2 separate regions of the Homo sapiens genome follow, and region 2 is linked to region 1. Evidence: fine-mapped expression QTL. A gene starts in region 1. The other region holds a variant in brackets. All regions are shown on one strand. Distances are between the middles of the regions.

Region 1 (11,730 bases):
TGAGATCTTGCTCTGTCACCCGGGTTGGAATCATGGCTCACTGCAGCCTCGACCTCCTGGGCTCAAGTGATCCTCCCACCTCAGCCTCCTGAGTAGCTGGGACCACAGGTCTGTGCCACCATGCTCAGTTAATTTTTAAAAATCATTTGTAGAGGCAAGGTCTCACTATGTTGCCCAGGCTGGTCTTGAACTGGGCTCAAGCAATCTTCCTGCCTCAGCCTCCTACAGTGCTAGGGTTATAGGCGTAAGCAACCACGCCCAGCCTCTGAGGATGATTTCTAAGTTATAACTGATCTTATAATGCTTTCTTTTTTCATTTTTTTTGAGATGGAGTCTCACTGTGTTGCCCAGGCTGGTTTTGAACTCTTGGGCTCCAGGAATCCTCCTGCCTCAGCCTCCCAAATAGCTGGGATTATAAGCACATGCCACCAGGCCCAGCTTTCTAATGCTTTATTTAAAATGTATACAATGCTATGTATCAATTGATGGAGCACCCTAAGATTTTAGAGGTCAGAAATGTAAAACAATGAATGTTTACCAGACTACCTAACAATGTAATTACTTTTGTATAGCCAGATTTCTATATTATCTATAATATATTCTAAAATAATATAGTCATTAAAATGACGTTTATGACATCAGATGTTGGCTGAGCAATGTTAAGAGAAAAAAGGAGCAAATAAGATTGTACACACAGTTCTGGCCAGGTGCGGTGGCTCACACTTGTAATCCCAGCATTTTGGGAGGCCAAGGCGGGCGGATCACAAGGTCAGGAGATCGAGACCATCCTGGCTAACACGGTGAAACCCCATCTCTATTAAAAATACAAAAAAATTAGCCGGGCATGGTGGCGGGCACCTGTAATCCCAGCTACTCAGGAGGCTGAGGCAGGAGAATGGTGTGAACCCCGGAGACGGAGCTTGCAGTGAGCCGAGATCGCACCACTGCACTCCAGACTGGGCGACAGAGCAAGACTCCGTCTCAAAAAAATAAAATAAAATAAATAAATAAATAAAAAAGATTGTACACATAGTTCTAACAAATATGCAACAACTAAACAGTTCTGAGTAGAAAAAAAGGCATTAGAAAAATGTATAAAATTAACAGTGATTGGCCAGGCACGGTGGCTCATGCCTGTAATCCCAGCACTTTGGGAGGCTGAGGTGGGCGGATCACCTGCGGTTGGGAGTTCAAGACCAGCCTGACCAACATGGAGAAACCCAGTCTCTACAAAAAATACAAAATTAGCCAGGCACGGTGATGCATCCCTGTAATCCCAGCTATTCTGGAGGCTGAGGCAAGAGAAACACGTGAACCTGGGAGGCGGAGGTTGCAGTGAGCCGAGATCGTGCCATTGCACTCCAGCCTGGGCAACAAGAGTGAAATTCCGTCTCAAAAAAAAAAAATTAACACTGATTATCTTTGGAGTGGTAGAAATATAGACTATTTTTTCATCTTTCTGCTTTTTTTGGTTTCTCAAAAGAAATGATTTTTATAATAGAAATAGCTGATTTCAGGCCAGGCATGGTGGTTAATTATTGTAATCACAGCATTTTTGGGAGGCTGAGGCAGGTGGACTGCTTGAGCTCAGGAGCAATATAGCAAGACCATGTCTCCACAAATGATTTTTAAAAATTAGCTGGGCATGGAGGCGTGGGCTTGTGGCCCCAGCTATTTGGGAGGCTGAAGTGGGAGGATCCCTCGAGCAAGAGGTTGAGGCTGCAGTGAGCCATGTTTGTGTCACTGCACTCCAGCCTACATATAAAAATCACATTTATTTTATGTCTTAAAAAAAGAAAAATTTGTCTGGGTTGTTGAAATGACCGATGTAACATCTTTATATTTGCATACACAGACTATAAACACCTCACTTGGGGTGACAGTGATAAATCGGATACTAAAGTAGCTACCCAAAATTAGTAGTTTTTGATAGCAGGGTCTCCTGAGAAAGGATGAAAGGTGAAAGGACGCCAAGAATTAGTATGAGAAGCTGTCCTTCCATTATGCAGAATACTCACCTGCCATCTGTGTTGTAATGCAATTCCATCACTGCTCCACTGTGTCCCTTCAGTGTGGCATAGTTATCACAGTCACCATAGACATTCCACAGTACTGTTAGGGAGATGGGTTCTGTGAGCATTACTAGGCAAAGGGTACTTATAAATTTATCAGAACAACAGTTCTCAGGTCAGGCACGGTGGCTCACACCTGTAATCCCAGCACTTTGGGAGGCCGAGACGGGTGGATCACTTGAGGTCAGGAGTTCGAGACCAGCGTGGCTGATACGGCGAAACCCCATCTTTAATAAAAATAAAAAAATCAGCCAGGTGTAGTGGCAGACGCCTACAATCCCAGCTCTTGGGAGACTGAGGCAGGAGAATCACTTGAACCCAGGAGACGGAGGATGCAGTGAGCCGAGATCGCGCCACGGCACTCCAACCTGGGTGACAGAGTGAGACTCCGTCTCTAAAAAGCCAACCGACCAACCAAACAAAAAAAACTATGTAGTTTGTCTGATGAAATTAAGCCTATCAATAATTCATATATGTTCTGCAAAGATCCCTAAGCAATCCAGACGTTTGGCCACTAGTAAGCTTAAGGATCATAGAGCCGGAACATCCAAATCAAAATGGGCAGTGAAGACGGGTATCATCCACCCGGCACCGAGGAAAAGAGTTAACAGAAAAGAGCCAAATAACTCATTTCATCTCATAATCTGGCAAGAAAGTAGCAACAGAAGCATCTGATTTTTTTTCCTTCTGGCTTCATTTGCTGGAGTATAAATAAAACGACTTTTTCTACTTACTTCTCAAAAATGGGTATGAGAAATTCTTATTTCTCAAAAATGGAAATCTGGTAGTAGATCCTAATGATGTACAGGTAGATTATTTAAGGGAGTTACCACTTTAGGATTCCTTCCTTCCCATATGCTAGCTAGGATTCTGGGTGTGAATTAAGAGGACCTTATACCTTTGGGAAAATAAAAGTTATTTCTCTCCTCATTACTGCCATTAACCTGTTATGTCTAGATTGCTAAGTGCCTTGGTAAATTAGCTGGAGATTTGCCTCTATGAGGAAGACATTCTCAAACCAGAACAACTCACTTTCCAACTAGTAAAATAATGGCTTCTGTATTTACCCCATGGACTCCAAGTTCTACACCCAAGATCATTCAGCATGTTCATGCCCCAATTTTAGCATATTAGCCATGCAGCCTGTTATGTTGCCAACATAGAGTGATACCTTCTGTGGCACCCAAGATTTAAAAAAAAAAATCACTATCTGGCAGGAAAAATTATTCCAGATTCAAAAACTATGCCTCACATATCAGTCGGTCAAATCCTGCAGATGCTAAGGTGGATCCGTTGGGGTGGAACTTGCAGCAGTAGACTTCCCCTTCATGTCCAGAGAGCAGCATGATTGGGGCTTGAAGGGAGGAACATCTTGGAGGTCCCTAAACAAAAGAGAAGCACAAGGTAACTACTGCATACAGACAAAGGAGGCTACAAAATTAGGGGGTGGGGAGTGGAGGGAAAAGACCAAGAAAACAATGATTAAGTGGGTTTCATCTGACTTACAGAATGGTAGCTCTTCTCATATGAATGCCTCCAACTTGACACTCTCTGAAACTTTCCATTATCTACCTGTTATAATGACTCTCTTGTTCACTCTCTCAGCTCTTGTTGTACGACCAACTTTTTTTTGGAGATAGGGTCTCACTCTGTCACCTAGGCTGGACTGCAGTAGTGTGATCATGGTTCACTGCAGCTTCAAACTCCTTGGCTCAAGTGATCCTCCTGCCTCAGCCTCCTGAGTAGCCAGGACTACAGGCATGAACTAGCATGCCATGCTAATTTTTTTAGTTTTTGTGGAGATGAGGTCTTGCTACGTTGCCTAGGCTGGTCTCAAAATCCTGGCCTCCCTCCTTGGCCTCCCAAAGCACTAAGATTATAGGAATGAGCCACCACATTTGGCCTGGCTCATTTAACAAATGATGGAACTGACTTTCCCAACAACTCTGCTTGGTATGGAGTACTGGGTGAAATAGTTTTGTTTTATTTTTAATTTTTTTTGTGTGTTTTGAGACAGAGTTTTGCTCTGTCACCCAGGCTGGAGTGCAGTGGTGTGATCTCGGCTCACTGCAACCTATGCTTTCTGGGTTCAAGGGATCTGGTGCCTCAGCCTCCCGAGCAGCCAAGATTACAGGCATGCACAACCACGCCCGGCTAATTTTTGTATTTTTAGTAGAGATGGGGTTTCACCATGTTGGCCAGGCTGGTCTCAAACTCCTGGCCTCATGTGATCTGCCTGCCTTGGCCTCCCAGAGTGCTGGGATTATAGGCATGAGCCACTGCACCTGGCCTATTTTTATTTCTTATTTTTTCATAGCAAACGGATCCTCAGCATGGGTGAAGTAGTTTTGATTATGGTCTTGGACACCAAGATGACACTTGGGCAATTCATCTAAACATGGGCTGATATGCTCACTTGTCAAATGGGAGAAGTATACTACCCATAATCCCCAAATCTCTTCAGTACTTCCCAGCATTTTCATATTTATTTATTTATTTATTTATTTTTTGGGGAAGGAGTCTTGCTCTGTTGCCCAGGCTGGAGTACAATGGCGTGATCTCGTCTCATCGCAAACTCCGCCTCCTGGGTTCAAGCGATTCTCCTGCATCAGCCTCCCGAGTGGCTGGGATTACAGGCACCCACCACCAAGCCCGGCCAGATTCATTTAGTTTTAAAAAATGTTATGTGCAGGCTGGGCGCGGTGGCTCACACCTGTAATCCCAGCACTTTGGGAGGCTGAGGTGGGCGGATCACTTGAGGTCAAAAGTTTGAGACCAGCCTGACCAACATGGTGAAACTCCGTCTCTACTAAAAATATACAAAAATTAGCCAGGCATGGTGGCGGGCGCCTGTAATTCCAGCCACTCAGGAGGCTGAGGCAGGAGAATCGCTTGAACCCGGGTGGCGGAGGTTGCGGTGCACCGAGATTGCGCCACTCCACTCCAGCCTGGGTGACAAGAGCAAAATTCCATCTTAAAAAAAAAAAAAAGAAGTTACGTGCTAGGCACTGGGCAAACAGCAATGAACAAAATAAACAATGGAGCTCGCTGTTCCAGTGGGAAAGGGGGAAGGGAGAAGGGAAGGTGAGAGAAAACAAGCAAACTATATATGTGGTGTCATGTGCTATAGAGCAAAAGAAGGGATGGGGATGGTGGCTCATGCCTGTAATCTCAGCATTTTGGGAGGCCAAGGTGTGCGGATTGCTTGAGCTCAGGAGTGAAATCCTGTCTCTACAAAAAAATACAATTAGTTAGATGTGGTGGTGTGTGTCTGTGGTCCCAGCTACTCAGGAGGCTGAGGCAGGAGGATCACTTGAGCCCAGGTGGTGGAGGCTGTACTGAGCCAGTGGTCAACACAGAGAGATTGTCTAAAAACAAAAAAACAAAAAAAGAGAGAGAGAGAAGCAATGTGGGTTCCACAGTATGTGGTACTGCAATTTAAAATAGGGTGGTCAGGAAAATCCTCACTGAAAAAATTACATTTGGGCAAATATTCGCAGGAGCTGAATAGTAAACCATGTAAACATTTGTGAAGAGCAATCCCACAGAGAGGACAGCAAATGCAAAGGTCCTGAAGCAGAGGCTTGGAAGAGAGAGTAACTGAAGCCAGGTGAGCAATAAGAAATTGGTCAGAGAGGTAAAGGGAAAGAGGGCAAATAATTACAAGAATTTTGGTTTTTACTCTGGATGAAGTACAAAGCCACCAGAAAGTTTTCTGCAGAGTGTAATGTGATCTGATGTTTAGAAGGATTCCTTTGGTTATTGGCTTGGTAACAGGTGCTGATACAAAGGTAGAAAGTGGAAGACCAGTTAGGGTCCCACTACAAAAATGCCAGATGAGATAATAATGGCTTAGGCCATGAGGCAATGATGGAGATGGTAGAAGTAGCAATTCTAGACCTATTTTGAGGACGGTGCCAGCAGGATTTATTGAGGAGATGTGAGGACACTCGTATTTCCTCGTCTGAGCCTAAACAGGACATTAGAAGTGTGATCACTATTTCTATCTTACAAAAAATGTAGTTAGGAGCATGGTTTCTCAGTTCGAAATCTGCTTCTATCACGTACTTGGTAAGTCTGTTTTTCCATCTGCAAAATGGGTTAATAACGTTCCTAACAGGCTGCTACCAAGATCAATGGAAATTTCATATACGAAACACTTTAGTACAAGAGTCAATGAATGTTAGCTGCTATTTAGTTGTTAATAATACTAGTGCAGAGAAATAAAGGGAAAAGCAACTTGCCCAAAGTCCCAAAACGAGCCAACACAAATCATTTCCCTTTTTTCTTCCCTCCCTCATTCATTCATTCTACACACTCTTCGGAATTTTTGTTCTATGCCAGATCCATGTTAGAGTCAGGATGCTTAAACCCGGGTCAGGGTTTTGAGCCCAAGGTCCTCAACTCTAATTCTAATGCTATCTCAGGGCAGTCGAGAGGCTGAAAACGGGCGCCAAACGGGGGAACACGTACGCAGCATTCGCAGGCTATGGGGAGCTTTTACAGTGTTTATGTGCTTTAACTCTGCGTAGAAACTCTCGTTCTGCCCCCGCAATGCGGGAAAGGGTCAGGGATCACCAGATACAGCGCTCTGAGGGGAGGAAGATGAGCTGAGGGCCAAAGGCCGCCTGCTTCTTCACTTACCGCTTGCAGCAAGGCTCCCGGCGTCGCCTGCTGCTGCCCGGCTCCTGGGCCAGACCCCGCTCCCAACAGCAACTCATGCCGCTGCCGCTTGACTGGAACCAGCGGCAACTCTGGGCCCTTACGCTTCTGCTGTTCTATCATGGCGGCAACCGGTCTCTTCAGCGCCGCCACTGACCGCGCTGCCGCTCTCAGGCGCCACGCAATTGGTTCCAAATTAGTCCTTCCTCCACAACTTCCAGCTTGGAAGAACCAATCGGCTTTCAATATTTCCATTTGCACCGCCCTCGGATAGTCTCTTGTTATTGGGCATATCTTTCTGACGTCATGAGAGTGCGATACCAGGATTGGTGGACGGAGCTGGCGACCGCCCTAGGCGCGCTGGGTCTTGTGGGTGGAAACGCGCTGGCTGACTGGGGTCGGCGTTTAGTTCAGCGCAGCGACTCGGGGACCTGGAGCTGACGCCTAGTACGTATGAGGAAGAACGGGGTGGGTGGCTGCCTGAGTCTGGAGGCGACGCCTCGGTTGTGCAGTCTGAACCTGCCCTTCTCAGCTGAGGGTGCTGACAGCAAGGGGTGGGAGGCGGGCCCCGAGTCCCCAGCTGTGGTAAGTAGTAGCCTGGGCTCCCTTTCGGGGCAGGAGCGGAGCCTTGGGGTCTCTGGCGGCAAGACCCAGCCCCTGCGGCTCCCTTCTTCAAGAGCGCCCATCGTGGCCAGTCCTGTGCCGGGCATTCCCAGGGAGAAAGGCCTGCGTCCCAGCCTCCTCCGGTGCCCCATTTGGCCGAGGAGGCTGACTTGTTTCTGCCACTGATTTTGCAGTTTTTGATCAGGGCCTACTGTATGCCCCCCTGAGAGAGACAGTGATGAAGGAAATGTCCGACTCCTTCTCCAGAGCACAGTCTTGTTGAGAAATTTGAGACTCATGCCCATGAACGTGGTCATTGCCTCAGTCGTCCTGCTGATATTCATTTAGCAGCGCGTTGGGGGTATGTTGTGAACCGGGCACGGTCCCTACTCTCAGGGCGTTTAACTCTGGTGGGGAAAACGTTAAACAATGACCTCACTAATACATGGAAATGCCTCCTACTGCTGCCTGATGCTATGAGTGCCTGAAATAAGCAGGAAGGTTTTTCAGAGGAAAAGATGCCTGCGCTGGTAGCTGCAGGAAGTGTTGTAATTAATTAGGTGAAGAAGTGAAGGCAGAACCTTCCATAGAGAACTACTTGTTCAGAGCCCTGAGGCACTTGGGAGGAAAATGACTAAAAGCACAAAGAGCCAGTGTGGCTGGTACAAAGAGAATGAAGGGAGTATGGTACAAGATGAAGCTGTACGTGATAGCGGTCAGACCTTGCAGGAATTTGTAGCTTTTATTTTAAAACGGATGAGATACCACTGAGCCGTCTTCCCCCAGTGGGGTGTGGTGGAGGAGGGGACTTGATCCCTCAGGCTCAGTGGTGTGAACAGACGGGGGTTGGGGAAGCCCTAGTCGATGTATGTGGACCACTTGGGATATGCAGTAATCCTGGTCAGAGATGTCAGTGAGGACTGAGATATGGGTGGAACTGCAGAGAATTGGACAGATTCTAGAGGTATATAGGAGGTAAAATGGGTGGGACTTGGTGATGGGTTGATTTTAGGGAGTGAAGAGAGGAATCAAAGGTAACTCCTAGGTTTCTGGCTTATGTAGTTGAATAGATGGTGGTACCATTCACTCACTATCACGGAATCCCTCAAGCTGGATAGGGAACACTAGAAGATGATTAGAGACCAGTTTTTTTTTGTTTTTTTTTTTTTTTTGAGACAGGTTCTTGCTCTGTCGCCCAGGCTGGAGTGTGGTGGTGCAACCTTGGCTCACTGCAACCTCCACCTCCCAGGTTCAAGCAATTCTCCTGCCTTAGCCTCCCCAGTAGCTGGGATTACAGGCGCCTCCACTGTGCCCGGCCAATTTTTGTATTTTTGGTGGAGATGGGGTTCCACCATATTGGCCAGGCTGGTCTCCAACTCCTGGCCTCAAGTGATCCACCTGCCTCAGCCTCCCAAAATTCTGGGATTACAGGCCTGAGCCACTGCTCCCAGCTGAGATCAGTTTTTATTGATTGATTGATTGATTGTGTGGGGTCATTCATGACATCCAAGAGGCAGTTTGAAATACAGCTTTGTGCTCAGAAGAGAGATTTGTGTTGGGAATATAAAATTGGGCATAATTTGTATATACATGAATTGAGCCATAGGTGTGGGTAAGGTCAGCTAAGTCAGAACCTTGACTAGTTCCAACATTTAATGGTGAAGAACAGGTGAACCTACAGGAGATACAGAAGAAAGGAAGGAGGACTGGAAGAATGTCTCAGAAGCAAAAGAATGATTTGTGATAGAAATTTCTAGAATTTAAATAACATGAAGATTGAAAAACATATTTTGGCTTTTATCATCATGGAGGTCACAGTAACCTTAGCAAGAGTTATTTTGTTGGTGTGATTGGGCCAAAAGCCAGATATGAGGCAAGGATTTGGACAAGAAAATGTAGGTAGTGAACCTACACAGTATTTTTCATAGATCTGATTGTAAAGAGGAGGAGAGGATGTGCTAACCGATGGGGATAAGGGATTATCCAGGATCCAGTTGAGGATCCAGTTTTGAGAAATTTGAGAATATTGTAGAAGATTTGAAAGTCACTGTGGAGTGTGGGAGAATGAGGTTACTAGAGAAATGTAGGATGCAAGGAAAAAAAAAATTTTTTTCCAGCATATCCAGCGGTTTAGTGCATGCATGGAGAAAACCTTTCTGGGTATGGCAAGGACATCGCTTGCTCAAGACACATTCTAACCTCTAATATGTCTTCTCTTCCTGAAAAATCTGGAAAACTAAAAACCATTTTCTTGACTCCCTTGCACCTAAGGTGAAAATTGAATTTGGAACTGAGTTAAATGTGGAAAGAAGGAGGGTGTGAGTCATCCAGTTTTGCTGCCAGTCATGGCAGTAAATTTCTCCAGTCAATAGCTCCCTGGTTTGGTGGCTTGCTGCAGTGATAGCCATAACTTTCCTGGATTGTGGCAAAGGTGGTATTATTTTGTGGGTTAGGTGTTGTTCCTGGAAGTTCTGCCAAAGTCTTTTATTGCAATACATCCCTTACTGCTTAAGTGGGTTCTGTTGTCTGCAACTGTCCCTGACCAGGTTAGAGGTACTGCCAGAGAGTTAAATATAAAGACAGAGTTAAAGGGAGTTTAGGGTGTTGTTGGAATGATGGGCTATGGAATCTAAGCTGGATTGGAAGAAAACTGAAGAAAAAGGGGAGGGCTGATAGATTGGAAGAAAATAGAGGCCAATAAATCAGGGTTCTAATGAGGTCAAAGAACAGTATTCTCTGCTAGAGGATTTCTGTTTATCCTAAAAGGCTTATTCAGTTATCTGTTTAACTTCTCTACTTCCCCCAGACCCTCTTTCTCTTCCTAGCTACTACTTTTGTTTGTTTGTTTTGAGACAGTCTTACTCTGTTGCCCAGGCCGATTGCAGTGGCATGATTATGGCTCACTGTAGCCTCGACCTCCCAGGCTCCAGTGATCCTCCCACCTCAGCCTCTCCAGTAGGTGGGATAACAGGTATGTGCCACCATGCCTGGCTAATTGTTGTATTTTTTATAGAGATAAGGTCTTGCCATGTTGTCCAGGCTGGTCTCAAACTCCTGGCCTCAAGTGATCTTGCTGCCTTGGTCTCCCAAAGTGCTACGATTATAGGCATAAGCCACCATGCCTGGCCCCCAAGCTTCTGCTTTAGCACTTATCACATTGCAGTGTAATTGGTGTTATTTTGTGGGTTAGGTGTTGTTCCTGGAAGTTCCGCCAAAGTCTGTTATTGCAATACATCCCTTTCTGCTTAAGTGGGTTCTGTTGTCTGCAACTGTCCCGGGCTAGGTTAGACATACTGCCAGATAGTTAAATATAAAGACAGAGTTAAAGGGAGTTTAGAGTGTTGTTGGAATGATGATATCTGATATCCCTATCAGATTAGGAGGTCTTTGAGAACAGGGACTGTGTTGAAAAGGGTGGTTTAGGCCGGGTGCTGTGGCTCACTCCTATAATCCCAGCACTTTGGGAGGCCGAGGCAGGTGGATCACCTGAGGTCAGGAGTTCGAGACCATCCTGACCAATATGGTGAAACCCTGTCTCTACTAAAAATATAAAAATCAGCTGGGCATGGTGGTGTGTGCCTGTAATCCCAGCTACTCGGGAGGCTGAGGCAGGAGAATCGCTTGAACCTGGGAGGAGGTTGCAGTGAGCTAAGATCGCGCCATTGCACTCTAGCCTGGGTGACAAGAACAAAACTCTGTCTCAAAAAAAAAAAAAGAAAAAAAAGGGTGGTTTAGTGGCAAGTGTGTGTGGCCCTTGGAATGGCCTAAGATTTGTCTCTTTCTTGCTGTGTTGTTTTGGACAAGTTATTTCATTCCTGTAAAATAGGATTACTTGCTTTGTAGAGGAGTTTTAGGGATTGAAAGCAGGTTTATAAAGTACCTTATATATAAACATCAATCAATAGCATACTGAATTGATGAATTAACAATTTAAATGGGGTAAAATTAAATACTTCACTATTTTAGTAGACAATTTCCATGTGTGTTACACTGTGCTAGGCACTGGAGATTTGGGGAGGAAGGATATGATGATGTGCAAGACAAAGGCATGCTTACAAGAGTTCCACACTCTACAAAGGGAGGAAAAAAATGTCCCTAAAAATGATTTGAATCCCATCCCCATCATTCATATTTTGCAATCTTGAGCGAGTTTACTTAGCTTCTCTTGTGTCCTCATTTTTAAAATGGCAATGATAATTGCCTGTTTTATGGGATAGTCAAGAAGAGAATTATTGAATGTCATGAAGATAAAATTTTAAAAAGAAAAATTAGTTAAGAGAAGTAAAGCTCTTAGATTAATACATGGCAGATATGAAGCACTCAAATATTAGCTATTATAAGACTTTGAAGGGATCTTAGGAATAATTGACTGAAAGTGTAGTGTCGAGTGGTA
Region 2 (11,730 bases), 390 kb after region 1:
ACAGAGGAGTGAGAAATGGCATGTCTGTGTTTTTGGGGTGGGGGAGCAGCATCCTTGGGGTCCAGCCGGGAGCAGCCATCCTGACCCATGAGCTCTGCCACCCAAGCTCCTCATTCTCTTCTCCCCCTTTACCTGCAGCCCAGGTACTCCAGGGGGGCCTGGTGGTCCGGGAATACCTGGTGGACCCTGAGGGAGAGAGAAAAGAGTCAGAGCCAGCAGAGAGCTCTGCCCCATGGCCGAGAGCAGCTGTTTAGGGTGGACAAGCCGCGGGGCGCTGGCGGACAAGAGGAGACAAGCGACACACCTGCGGGCCCGGCTGCCAGGAGCTGCCCATCCAAAGTCCCGGAGCACCCTGGGTGGGAGTGGGGGTCGCAAAAGAAGGGGAGAGGTTATAGGCAACGTCTACACCAAGCGCGGGGCTGCGTGGGGAGGCGGCTGGCTGGGGTGCGTGGCCCTGCGGGGCCTTTGCACACTGGGCACCAGACGAGGCTGAAGCTGGTCCTCTCCCCCAGTTGGGGGAAGGCTCTCACAGCGCCACTTACCGGCATGCCAGAGAAGATGAGGTCTCCTTGAGAGGGGCAGGAGCACTCCCCTGGCTCACCCTGAAAATACAAGAGCCTTTGTGAGACATGGATGAAGACGAAGGGCTCTCTTGAAATGGACATCCGAGAGGCACGTGGGCTCTAGAGATGGAGAGGCCAGGGTTTCAATCCAGGATCTGCCTCTTCTAATGTGCCCTTAGGCAACCTGTTCAAACTCTCTGCACCTCAGCCTCCTCGCCTGTAAAATGGGAACAATAATTCCAAGCGCATGGAGTCTCAGGAGGACAAAATGGATTCGTGTATGCAGGGGTCCTGTCGCATGGTGATTATTCAGCAAACGATGGTCCTGCTGTTACAGTCGTCAGTTATAACCTTCTCTGCTGCCACGCAGGTAATCTCGCTTTCAGTACAACTGCAGCCCCACTCCTCTGGGCCCAGCCTGGCTTCCATGCCCTTCGCTCGGGAGCCCCTCACCTCTCTGCCCTCTCACCACTAGTCCTTTCCAGCTCACTTCCTGCCCCATCCTCTGACTCAGCCCCCATTTGAAAATGCAGCTGCCCTCCTAAGGGGGCCTTGGAGTTTTCCAGTCTCCCATAATCCTGGTTGAGTCCCAGGCCAGCAACCAGGTGAAGCTGGGGATACGTGGAGCCCCTGAAACCAGAAAGCTGGGGGTAGCAAGGAGCCCAGGATGCCTCCTCCACCCCCATCCTCCAGTCCAAGGCAGCTTCATGTGCACAGGCTCCCCTGGTTCATGGTGGGAAGGCTGGAGGGGCTGCTAATCCCCCAGAGTACGGGTCACAGGTGGGAAGGCTGGAGGGGCTGCTAATCCCCTAGAATATGGGTCACAGGCCCTTGGAACTCACCTTCTCTCCTCGTGGTCCTTTTTCACCCTGCAGGGAAGAAACACAGGAAGGTGAGCAGATAGGGGTGCCGAGGCAGGGCCGGCCATGGCTTCCTGCTGCCCCAAGGCACTGTACTCACTGGTGTTCCTCTGAGTCCCGTCTGTCCTTGCTGCCCATCACGGCCCTGAAGAGAGAGAGCCCAGAGTCAGAGGGTGAGACTGGGCAGCGGCCAGCCATCTGGCCTGCTGCAGAAAAGGGGTGTAGGACAAACAGAAGCAGCGCCAGGTTCCCCTGGAGCCCAGGGCCGAGGGCCCACGTTCCAGAGGAGGAGACTGAGGTGCCGGACAAGGAAGAAGACTGGCATTTCCTGAGCACGTCTCAGTGCCAGCCACTGGGCCAAGTACCCGTCGGGGAACACTGAATGGAATCCGCTCTCCCAGCCCGGCAGGACGGTATTGTTCTGGTTTTCAGGTGTGGAAACTGAGCCCTGAAGAAACTTCATGACAGACCCAACAGCCAGCTGCAGCCAGGCGTGTGTAGCCTGAAGTCTCTGCTCTCTCCTCTCTCCCTTTAGTGCTTGATACACTTTCTCCCTATCACAAAAGTTACATCTGTTGACCTAACTGGGAGAAAGGGATTTCAGCCCCTCCAAGAAATTGGAGACTTTGAGAAGCTGTCACTTGCCTAGGGTCACGCCCCTAGCGAGTGTGGGGCTGAGGAAGGGAAGCCTGCTGGATGGAATTCAGCATGAGTAGAGGTCTGGAACGTTCTCCTGAAAAGGAAAGCAGTTTGGGCAACGGCATGGAGTCTGCTCAGGCCAGGAGAAGCCAGCCTGGCCACGCAGAGGCTCGTAGCTCTGTGCTCATAGCTCCTTCATGTGGGCTCCGCCACCTTCACACGTGGGACTTGAAGCCCCTGAGGACCTGGCCCACATCTCTCCTTTTGCCTGGGGCTCCCTGGGACAGGCAGGAACCCTGGCTGTCCAGCTCTGAGGGACAATAGAGACCGGCTGTGTGGGCTTGGGCGAGTCCCTGCCTGCTTTGGACGTTGGTGCACTCTCCTATCAGTGAATCCCAAACTGGAACTAGAATTTCTCCAGGGATCCGCAAAGACAGAAGAGGATACAGTTCACCTGGGCTATTTTTAACATTACCAAAAGCCCAAGACAAATTACGCATTTGCCCACCGCCTGGCATGGAACAGACTGGCTGAAAGGTAGCATGCCTTTGATTTTGGCTGCAATTAGATTATCTGGTAAAATTCTAGCGGGTTCATGTGGAGTAGAAGCTGACGACTATACAGGTCTTTGATGATTAAAAATGAGAAAATGCACTTATGATTACTTAATCCGTGCAATTTGTTCAATAGACATGTCTCTTAAAACGTGGGAGCCACTGGGTGAATAGTACAAAGGGAAGGTCTTTCCAATTATACTGGAAGTAGTTGCTGGTCTGGATCTGTGCCGTCTGATACAGTAGTCCATAGCCACATGGGGCTATTTAAATTTAAATTAATTAAAATTAAATGTCACTTAAAATTGAGTTCCTCAGTCACACTAGCCACATTTCAGGTGCACTCAACAGCCACCTGTGGTTGTGCAGAACACAGCGTTTCCATCCTCATAGACAGTTGTACTGGGCAGCACCGGTTCACATGTCCCTAATGACTGGGGATGGGCTTTGGTTTGAGTCAGACAGGCCTAGGTTGAAGTCCCTGGCTCTGCCTCCTCACCCTCTGGCCTTCAACTTCCTGATCTATGAAGTGAGTTCCCTTACAGGGCTGATGTGAGGATGACATGAATTTCTGTGTTTAGAGCTTAGCACAGGGCCTCAGCATGATCACTGCTCAAAAAATGGTGGTGATCATTATTGTATTATTCAAGCATTCCCCTAAAAGAGTGAGGTTTTCCTTGTCTGAGGCTGGGCTGAGGCCTCTCTCCTCCCATCCCCTGTGCTGCTGGGATGGGCAGGGTCAGCCCTGTGCCCTCTTCCCAGCAGAAACATCCTTGGTTCCAGCAACACCACCAGCATGGAGCACAGAGAAGACTTACCGGAGGCCCAGAGACACTGGCCCCAGGAGGTCCCACAGGTCCGGTGGCTCCTTTCACCCCTGGAGATCCCTGTGTAAGAGAAGGTACAAAGGTCTCAGGGGCAGAATTGGAAGCCAGCTACAACCCAGCAGGTAAGACACATCTCAACAGATCTTAGGCAGCCCTCTGATAGGCATCACTTGGCCCCCATGTCCCCTGTGCCTGCTTCTGGGACACTCTGGAATACTGCAGGCCCAATACCCATGGAGGCAGAGGCTCACCTGGGCACCCTTCTCTCCAGTGGGGCCAGGTGGTCCCCGAGGTCCCGGAAGTCCCTGCAGATGGAAGCACAGTTAGTTAACCCATATCCTAGAATGGCCCCCTCCCCTGCTATCCTCCTTCAGGACTCAGGCAGACGTACCTGAATGCCAGGCAAACCCGGGGCTCCAGGCTCCCCCTGCAAGTCAGAAAGGGCAGACTAGGGCACAGCAGCCACAGCCAACCTGCCCCACTGGCCCTGCCGCACCGGCAGACCTGGTCTGGGTGGGGTATCTGCCAGCCCAAATTCAGAAGAGCTCCCCAAGGAGACCCTGAGGGTCAGAGAGGCTGGGGTCAAAGGCAAGTCCCTGACAGAAGCAACAGCAGGCCAGGGCTGCGGCCTGATCCCTGGTCCCAGAACTAAGTCCTGTGCCTCTGGGGGCAGGCAGAGCCCTGAAGTTTGGGAGTGGATGGAAGTAGGTAGCTGGCTAATGGAAGTGCTGAGAGGACAGGCAAAGGCAGGGCTAGAGACTCACCTGGGGTCCCTGGACTCCCCTTCCTGGAGGCCCTGGCTCTCCCTGAAGAGGCAGAAGGACAGTCCCTGGCTCGAGGTTCCCCAGTCACCCTTTCCCCTTCTCCCCAGCCCCTTCTCCTCCAGCTTCTTCCTGCCCTGCACCCTGCCTCCATTTCCCACTCCAGGCCCACTGCCCCCATGGATCTCCCTATCCCACCCCTGCCCTCACGTAGCTACGGCCCAGGGCCCCAAGACTCACACATACCTGCACGCCCTTCAGTCCTGGGGGCCCTTGAACTCCTGGTAGACCGGGTTGGCCCTAAAAGGCATAAGGTGGCCCATGGAGTCCCCACAGGAGAAAGGGGGACAGGAGGGAGAGGAGGCAAAGCCCAGGCAGGGAAGGGCCGGAGGGCAGGCAACTCACGGGTTTACCAGGTCGGCCCACGCCTTCGGGGCCCTGCTCTCCTTTGGGGCCGGGCTGCCCAGGCCGTCCTGCCATGTCTGTCACTGTCCCCTGCAGGCTGGGGCAGGCAGTGCAGCCATCACCCTGGTCAGAGATGGGTACAGCCAGGAGCCCATGAGCCGGGGCTGGCACCCAGGCCAGGACGCCCTGCACCCCTCTGAACACTCTGCCCCTTGAATGCTCCCACGTCAGCCTGGGAAATCAAAACAGGCCCCTGACACTCCTAGCAGAGGAGAAGCCCCGAGGAGCCTCCGCTCAGTGACTCTGACAGCCGTTAAGGCCCCAGCTGGCCCTGCAGTCCTTCCCTCACTGGTGCGACACCTGATTTTTTTTATGCAACAAACTCCCCGACCCCAACCACCCCGCCTGACTAACCTTTTCTCCTTTTGGCCCCGCGGGGCCCTGAACTCCAGGCTCTCCTGACAGTCCTGGCCGCCCTGTGGTGCCCGGCGTTCCAGGGTCTCCAGGATTCCCAGCATCACCCTGTAAGGAGTGGGGTTCAAGGAAAGCAAGGATGGCCCAGCCGGGGGCAGGTTGCCCCCCTGGGACTCGCAGGCACTCACACTCCTTTGCCGGGGCTGAGGGTTGGGGGCTAGGGAGGGAGGAAAATGAGGCAAGGAGGGGATCTGAGATGATGCCATGCCCACCCCCGTGCCCACGGACGCCCTCTCACCTTCTGCCCCTTCAGTCCACGCTCTCCAGCCTTGCCCTGAGGAGAAAGCATTTCCAGCACCCGCTCACTCATACCAGCCACCCCAAAGTGCCCGGCACCACATCAGGCTGGGGCATACAACAGTAAACAAACAAACAAAATCTCTGCTTTCGTGCTAGTGAAGCAATCTTGCCCAGGTGCAGAGCAAAGATTTGTGCCAGACTCTTTGCCTGGGTGACATGAGCAAATTAGCTCATCTATCTCCGTACCTCAGTTTCTTCAGCTGTCAAATGGGGATGATAAAAATAGTATAGGCTTCTGCCCTGTAGGGATCCTGTGAGGTTAGACAAGCTAATATGTCGTGTGCAGCAGTGCCTGGCACATAGTGTCCACTGTGGTAGTGCTGGCCGTTACTGTGAAAGCAGTAACAGTGATAATAACCACAGTGGTAACTGCCATTTCCCCAGTGCCCATGGTGTACCACTAAGCACTTCACACACGCCATTACTAGGCTTTACTCTGTGCAGGAAACAGAGGTGGAGAGAAGGTGACTTGCTCAAGTCAAAGACTTAGTAAGAAGCAAAGCTAAGATTGGAACCCAGGTCTCTCTGCTCCTAGGATGGCGTGCTTTCTGCCCACTCTGCCATACTCTGTCCCAGGATAAAGGGCAGAGACCTGTGAGGGCCGCTCCTGCTGGAGACAGAGGCTCTGACCCCGCCACACCCTCCCCACTACCCCCAACTGCCCAGGGAGTCAAGAGACCCAGGCAGGACCCCTCCCCTCTCCTTAGCCCCGCCTGCATCCCCCGTCCAGAGGCCCCTGCCTATATCCCACCTCACCTGTTTTCCTGGCAAGCCAAAGCCTGGAGGCCCAGGTTCCCCCTTCTCTCCGGATGGGCCAGGCAAGGCCACCACACGGACATCCCCATCCTGAAGGTTGGACAGGGCTGGGCACGGCTCACAGGGCTCCCCCTGCCAAGCAAGGACATTGAGTTAGGGGGTCCCCCAGGCCCTAGTGCACTTGAGCGAGGTTTGGAATCTAGGGCTGGGGAATGTCACTGGGTCTGACACTGCACCTCTGCTGGGTGAGGGGTTATCTTGGGAAAGATGAAGGGAGAACAGGAAAGAAACAAAGGTGGAGCTGAGTCATCAGGGGTCTCCATGCCTTGCTAAGGAGTCAGACTCTGCCCGACAGACAGCAAGGAGCCCCAGAGGGTTCGAAGTCGAGCAAGACGAGTGTCTATCTAGGAAGCTCACCCAGGCTGCAGCACGGAGAATGTCCCCAGACTCACCTTCGCCCCTTTGATGCCTGCTGGCCCCACTGGTCCTGGTGGCCCCTGCATGTTAAGACGCTACAGGTAATGCCCAGCATCTGCCAGGGCCATGCCTATCAGCCCCTCCCACCTTGTCCTCTCCCAAGCTGTTGCCATCCAAAACATACTTACTGGACTGCCAGCTGGCCCTGCCTCCCCGAAGTTACCCTGAGAGAAAGCACAGAAACCATGATTAAAGAGGGGATGGAGTCTGGGTGCTAGAGCAATCCCAAACCCAAAACTGTAAAAGCAACCCCTTCAGATGTCCAGACTACCCTCTCATGTCCAGAGAGGAAGAGGGCTTTCTCCAAGGTCCCCAAGGGAGTCTGTAACCAGCCAGGGGCTAGAAGCCCTATTTCTGCCCCCAGCTTCACCTCATGGAATCCAGCCCACCCTCAGCCATGTCTCAGCACACAAAAATCACGAAGGCATTTTTCCAACAGCCTTTCATTGGACACCTTTACAGGCGGAGCACTGGGCTGAGGCACTGGGTAGACAGCAGTGAGCAGGACAAACAGCAATGCCTGTTGAGCTTGCACACGCAGAACTTTCTAAATCATCATTTTAAACAGTGGTGAGTACTATGAAGGAAATCAACAAGGTGATGAGACAGAGTAAGTGGAGGTGGTCAGAGAGGTGTTAACCCTGATTATTACCAGAAGAATGAGAATAAGGTCATCCAATGAAAGAATGGGGGAGGGTAGAGAGGAAAAACATTCTGGATGCTTCTAGTGGGAACCACAAGTACAAAATCTGACGGGTGGGAGTAGTCCGGACATATTCCATAATGGAAAGAAGATCCGCACGGCTAAAGCAGAGTAAACCCGAAGAGAAGGGGAAGAAGCGGATGAATTTGGGAAGGATGGGGGCTGGGGCATCCGGGGTCCTGTGAGATACAGTGGAGCTATGTTAGAAAGTAAGTCACAGAGGGACTCTAAGGAGGGAAATACTGATTCTTCTACAAAGCCACATTAAACTACCGGGTGAAGGCTGGGCACGATGGCTCACGCCTGTAATCCCAGCATTTTGGGAGGCCAAGGAGGGTAGATCGCTTGAGGTCAGGAATTTGAGACCAGCCTGGCCAACATGGCAAAACCCCGTCTCTACTAAAACTACAAAAATTAGCTGAGTGTGGTGGTGCACGCCTGTAATCCCAGCTAATTGGGAGGCTGAGGCAGGAGAATCACTTGAACCTGGGAGGTGGAGGTTGCAGTGAGCAGAGATCACACCACTGCACTCCAGCCTGGGCAACAGAGTGAGACTCAGTCT[CA/C]AAAAAAAAAAAAAAAAAACCAACAACGCACAGACACACACACACACACACACACGAAAAACTACCAGGTGAAAACCGGACTGCTGCAGGGCTACAGTGGCCACGGGCAGGCCAGAGGAGGTTCCACCATGCAGGAGAGAGGCCATGGGGACGCAGATTACTATGGCAGTGGTGGGCGTGGAGAGAAGTGGAGGGGGTGAGAGAGCCATCATGGGCAGAACTGTCAGGACTCGCTGGGGGGCTAGAGGGAGGGGGCAGCGTCAGGAGTGAAGGATCTGAGGACGACCGCAAGGCTGGGCTTTGAGGGGCTGGCTGTGAGCTGATGACTGAGATGGGGAAGCTGGGAAGAGGCGGCAGGTGGGGTGGGGGTGCAAAGGCCCCACATGTGATGTGACATGTGGGCTTCCCCTGTTAGGGTTGAGTCTGCACACATACTTCAGTGTTTCTCACACTTGAGCACTCGTACACCCACAGAATTTGGGTAACATTTGGGTAACACTGCATTAGAAGTTCAAGCCTGCCATTTGTCTCCAATGCAATCATAAATAGATACGTTAACACAGGCACTGAAATTGAGTGACCCACAGGCGTAGTGAAGATTACAGTCTCTGGAGCCAGGCTTCCTGGGCTCAATCCCAGCTCTGCATCCAATCACCTGGCAATTTACTTGGCCTTTGTGTGCCTCCGTTTCCTCATCTGTGAAATGGGAATAATGGAGCACATACCCCATAAACTCTGGGAGGACAAAACAAGTGAATATACTTACAAGATTTGGAATAGTGCCCGGCACATCATAAGCAATAAAGAAGTGTTACATATTATAAATATAATAAGGTAATCTTGAATGTGCTTAATAGTTTTAGAATATCATCACAGCTACACTAAGGAATTCTCTTACAGAACATGAGGGCTCTCAGAAATAAATTCTTTGACTCAAGTCTGCAAAACACTAGTAAATTAATTTCACTGTGAATTTACCGTCTGAATCTCTTGTTTATATTACCCTTATTCCCCGCCCGCACCACTCCTCCCCTGCCTGCCTGCCAAGAAACTCCAGTGTCCCTGACATCTAACCCAGGTCTCACCTTCTCTCCTTTCAGCCCTGGAACCCCAGCTCTACCCTGAAAAACAACCAAGACAGAGTCTCAGCATCTCCCCACTCCCACCTCTCCAAGGCTCCCCGGGTCCCAGTGTCCAACCAGAAACAGAACGGTAAGATAGGAATTATGTCCTTCAGGTAGCTGGACAGTTTCTTCAGTTAGACAACTGAAGCTAGAGGTGCTAAGAGGAAGTTCCAGGGCAAGGAGCCTGGGGCAGCACAGGGACGGAGGGAGGGACCAGGAGACAGGCCTGGGACACCTGCCTCTTCCCCTCCCTCCTGATCCCTGCCCTGAGACTTGGGATCTGAAAAGCCAGGGAGATCAACAGTATGGCAAGGATGGCTGAACTGGGCTGGGCTGGGAGAAAGTCGTCACTCACCGGAAGGCCAGGCAGACCAAAGCCAGGGGAACCCACATCTCCACTGGCCCCTGTGGAGGACACAAGATGCTGGGCCCCTACAACCGAGCTGCAGGACAAGCAGGGCTCCCCCTGGGGAAAGAAGAGGAAGGATCAGAAATGCTTCCAGGTAGGCAGAGGAGGGCAGCCAGGAGAGCAGGGTTCCCTCACCTTCTCTCCTTTGATGCCTTGGATGCCAGGGTCTCCCTGCAGGGTAAAAAGGTTTGTGGGCTGAGGCAGGGCACGATGGGGCACCCCCAAACTCCCTGGCAATATGCGAGGACAGCAATGTCACACACGCAAACCGTCCAAACACCTAGGGGTCCCATGGGGTCCAAGGCCAGCACCCCAGAGGCAGGGTTCATCAACCCACATAACAAGCAGGAGCGTGGCGGGGGGAATGACGCCAGGTTAAGCTAACCCAGTGGGAAGTTCCTGCATATACCCAATCACCTTTTTGTCTGACAGCTCCCAGGTGCTCCTGAAAGAGGGGGTCTGTGAGAGAGGGGGCTAACCCAGTCCTGCTCACTCCTTTCCTCCACCCCCAAAACATACCCAATCCTAGGACACAGCCTCACTCACAGTAAGGGTGGGCTCCAGCCCAGCTTGCCCAAAAGGCACCCTAGAGTCTCCTGGAAAGCCCTGGGAGGTTGCCATGGAGACCGGAGGTGGCACTCTAGCCCAGCCCTGAGTTCTATGGTTCAGACCCCTTACCACAGTAAGAGCCTAGACTCTCTGCCCATAATCTCTCTGTAGCCACGAGAAGTACCCAGCCCCTCTGCCCAATTCCTCTCTATGATCATGTCCCCAGGTTTCTTTGTGTGTTGGGGGAGGTCCCTCAATGGTCACCCTGGGCACTCACCCTGGCTGGTACAGGATCACCAGGCTCCCCTTTGGGCCCTGGCTTTCCAGGAAGTCCAACAAAGTTCTGGAACCCTTCAGGCAGTGTTGGGCACACTTCACAGGGGTCACCCTAGCAGAAGGGAGAGGCAGTATGTGGACAGGGTGGGGCTGAGACCCCAGGGAAGGCAAGGGGCCTCTTGCGCAGACCAGCCCTAGACATTGGGTCCACCAGAGCCCCACCCCCAACATCAAAGTGGACAGCAGGAATGCCGCTGGGGCTTCCTGTTCAACTGACTCATTCATTCACCACAAGATTCCAGGGTGGCGCAAAACTACATCCTCGCCGTAAGCCTTAAAACATGACTGTGCCCCACTGACAGACATGGAAACTTGGGCTAAGAGAGAAGCTAATTGATCTGGCACATTCATAACCATGTGTGTGGTGGAGGCAGAGTTTGAACCCAGCTCACCCCTAAGCCAGGTTCTTTATGTACTCACTGCACATGGACATCAGAGGAAGAACGGGTGGGGGTCCCCTGAGGAAGGTCCAGCACCCCTAGGCCTAGGGCCCTTGATGCTCACTGTCATGTGCAGAAAGGGGGTCCCGTTCCCACCCCGATCTGGGCAGCCAGGCCTAGGACTCACCTTCTCTCCCTTCACACCTGGCTTCCCCTGTTAGAAAAGAGGCAATGGGCATCAGTGCCAGGGCAGAGGGCTGGTGTGCCAACTGAGGGCCGGAGGACCTAGCCCCTCCCTCCAGAGGCCTTGGAAGAGCCGACCCTCCCCCGCTGGATTGGTGTCACTCACAGGTTTCCCACCAGGGCCTTCCTTTCCTGGGATCCCCGAGCTGCCCTGTGGTCAGAAGAAAGGATAAGCGGGGAGCCTTCTGGCCAATGCAATCTCGGTGCGTTCCCCCTTCCCCACCCGTGCCCCTCTGTGATGGCAGAACAATCGTTGCCAAATCTCTTGTTGCCATTTGTTCCATTCGGTCGGTTCCTGTTGCCTGCCCTCCGTGTCTAACCCAAGCCATTCTAGGTTTCAAAGGAAGGGAGAAAATGAAGCTTCTGTGTGCCCCTTCACTGGTGCACAGGTTAAGAGGTGATCCGCGTGACCCCAGCAGTCACAGACAGAAATTTCCAGAGCTTTCTGCACATCCAGGCACAAGGCTCTAAAATGAGCTTGGGCCCTCCAGCAAAGTCCACTTTGATCTTTACAACACTTAGGTCTGCCCATCCCTATACCTGGAACACAGGCGGAGGTTGCAGTGAGCAGCTCAGTGAGCACTGGGATGGGGACAGGACGCTCCCCGCCAAGGGGCCTGGCCAAGCCGAGCCCAGCCTCCTCCTCCAAAGGCCCGGCCTCCTCCCTGGGACTTGCTTCCCCTGTGGGAAGCTGCCCCGGCCCCTTCTCTCTCCTCCTGTCAAGCATGGAGCTCCCCACGTGACCACACTCCCACCTATGCTCACCTTGTCTCCCTTGGGGCCTGGTGGGCCACCTGGATCCCCCTG

Which allele goes with the higher level. Alleles are on the strand shown, and positions count from the first base shown. SD is a standard deviation of normalised expression in the study named.
For the expression in monocytes after interferon gamma of the gene that starts at base 6,894 in region 1, allele CA in region 2 goes with a lower level than allele C (large effect, 1.6 SD a copy in Fairfax 2014).

What was found.
Region 2: its variant is fine-mapped to the expression of SNRNP40 in monocytes after interferon gamma (Fairfax 2014, PIP 0.95).

The regions. Positions count from the first base shown.
Region 1 is chr1:31,289,895-31,301,624 of GRCh38, forward strand. SNRNP40 (small nuclear ribonucleoprotein U5 subunit 40) reads right to left here and starts at 6,894. Exons shown (of 10, transcript NM_004814.3): 1 at 6,717-6,894; 2 at 3,325-3,454; 3 at 2,019-2,112. The coding sequence starts at 6,857. ZCCHC17 (zinc finger CCHC-type containing 17) reads left to right here and starts at 7,138. Exons shown (of 8, transcript NM_016505.4): 1 at 7,138-7,181. RefSeq lists an enhancer at 6,663-6,872.
Region 2 is chr1:31,679,500-31,691,229 of GRCh38, forward strand. COL16A1 (collagen type XVI alpha 1 chain) reads right to left here. Exons shown (of 71, transcript NM_001856.4): 20 at 11,689-11,727; 21 at 11,030-11,074; 22 at 10,868-10,894; 23 at 10,242-10,352; 24 at 9,551-9,586; 25 at 9,362-9,472; 26 at 8,968-9,003; 27 at 6,745-6,780; 28 at 6,592-6,636; 29 at 6,140-6,271; 30 at 5,322-5,357; 31 at 5,024-5,131; 32 at 4,610-4,732; 33 at 4,451-4,504; 9 more. Among named protein-coding and RNA genes, the nearest start is that of COL16A1, 19 kb to the right of the region's middle. RefSeq lists enhancers at 464-1,663, 1,939-2,811. The variant CA/C (reference allele first, on the strand shown) is at 7,882.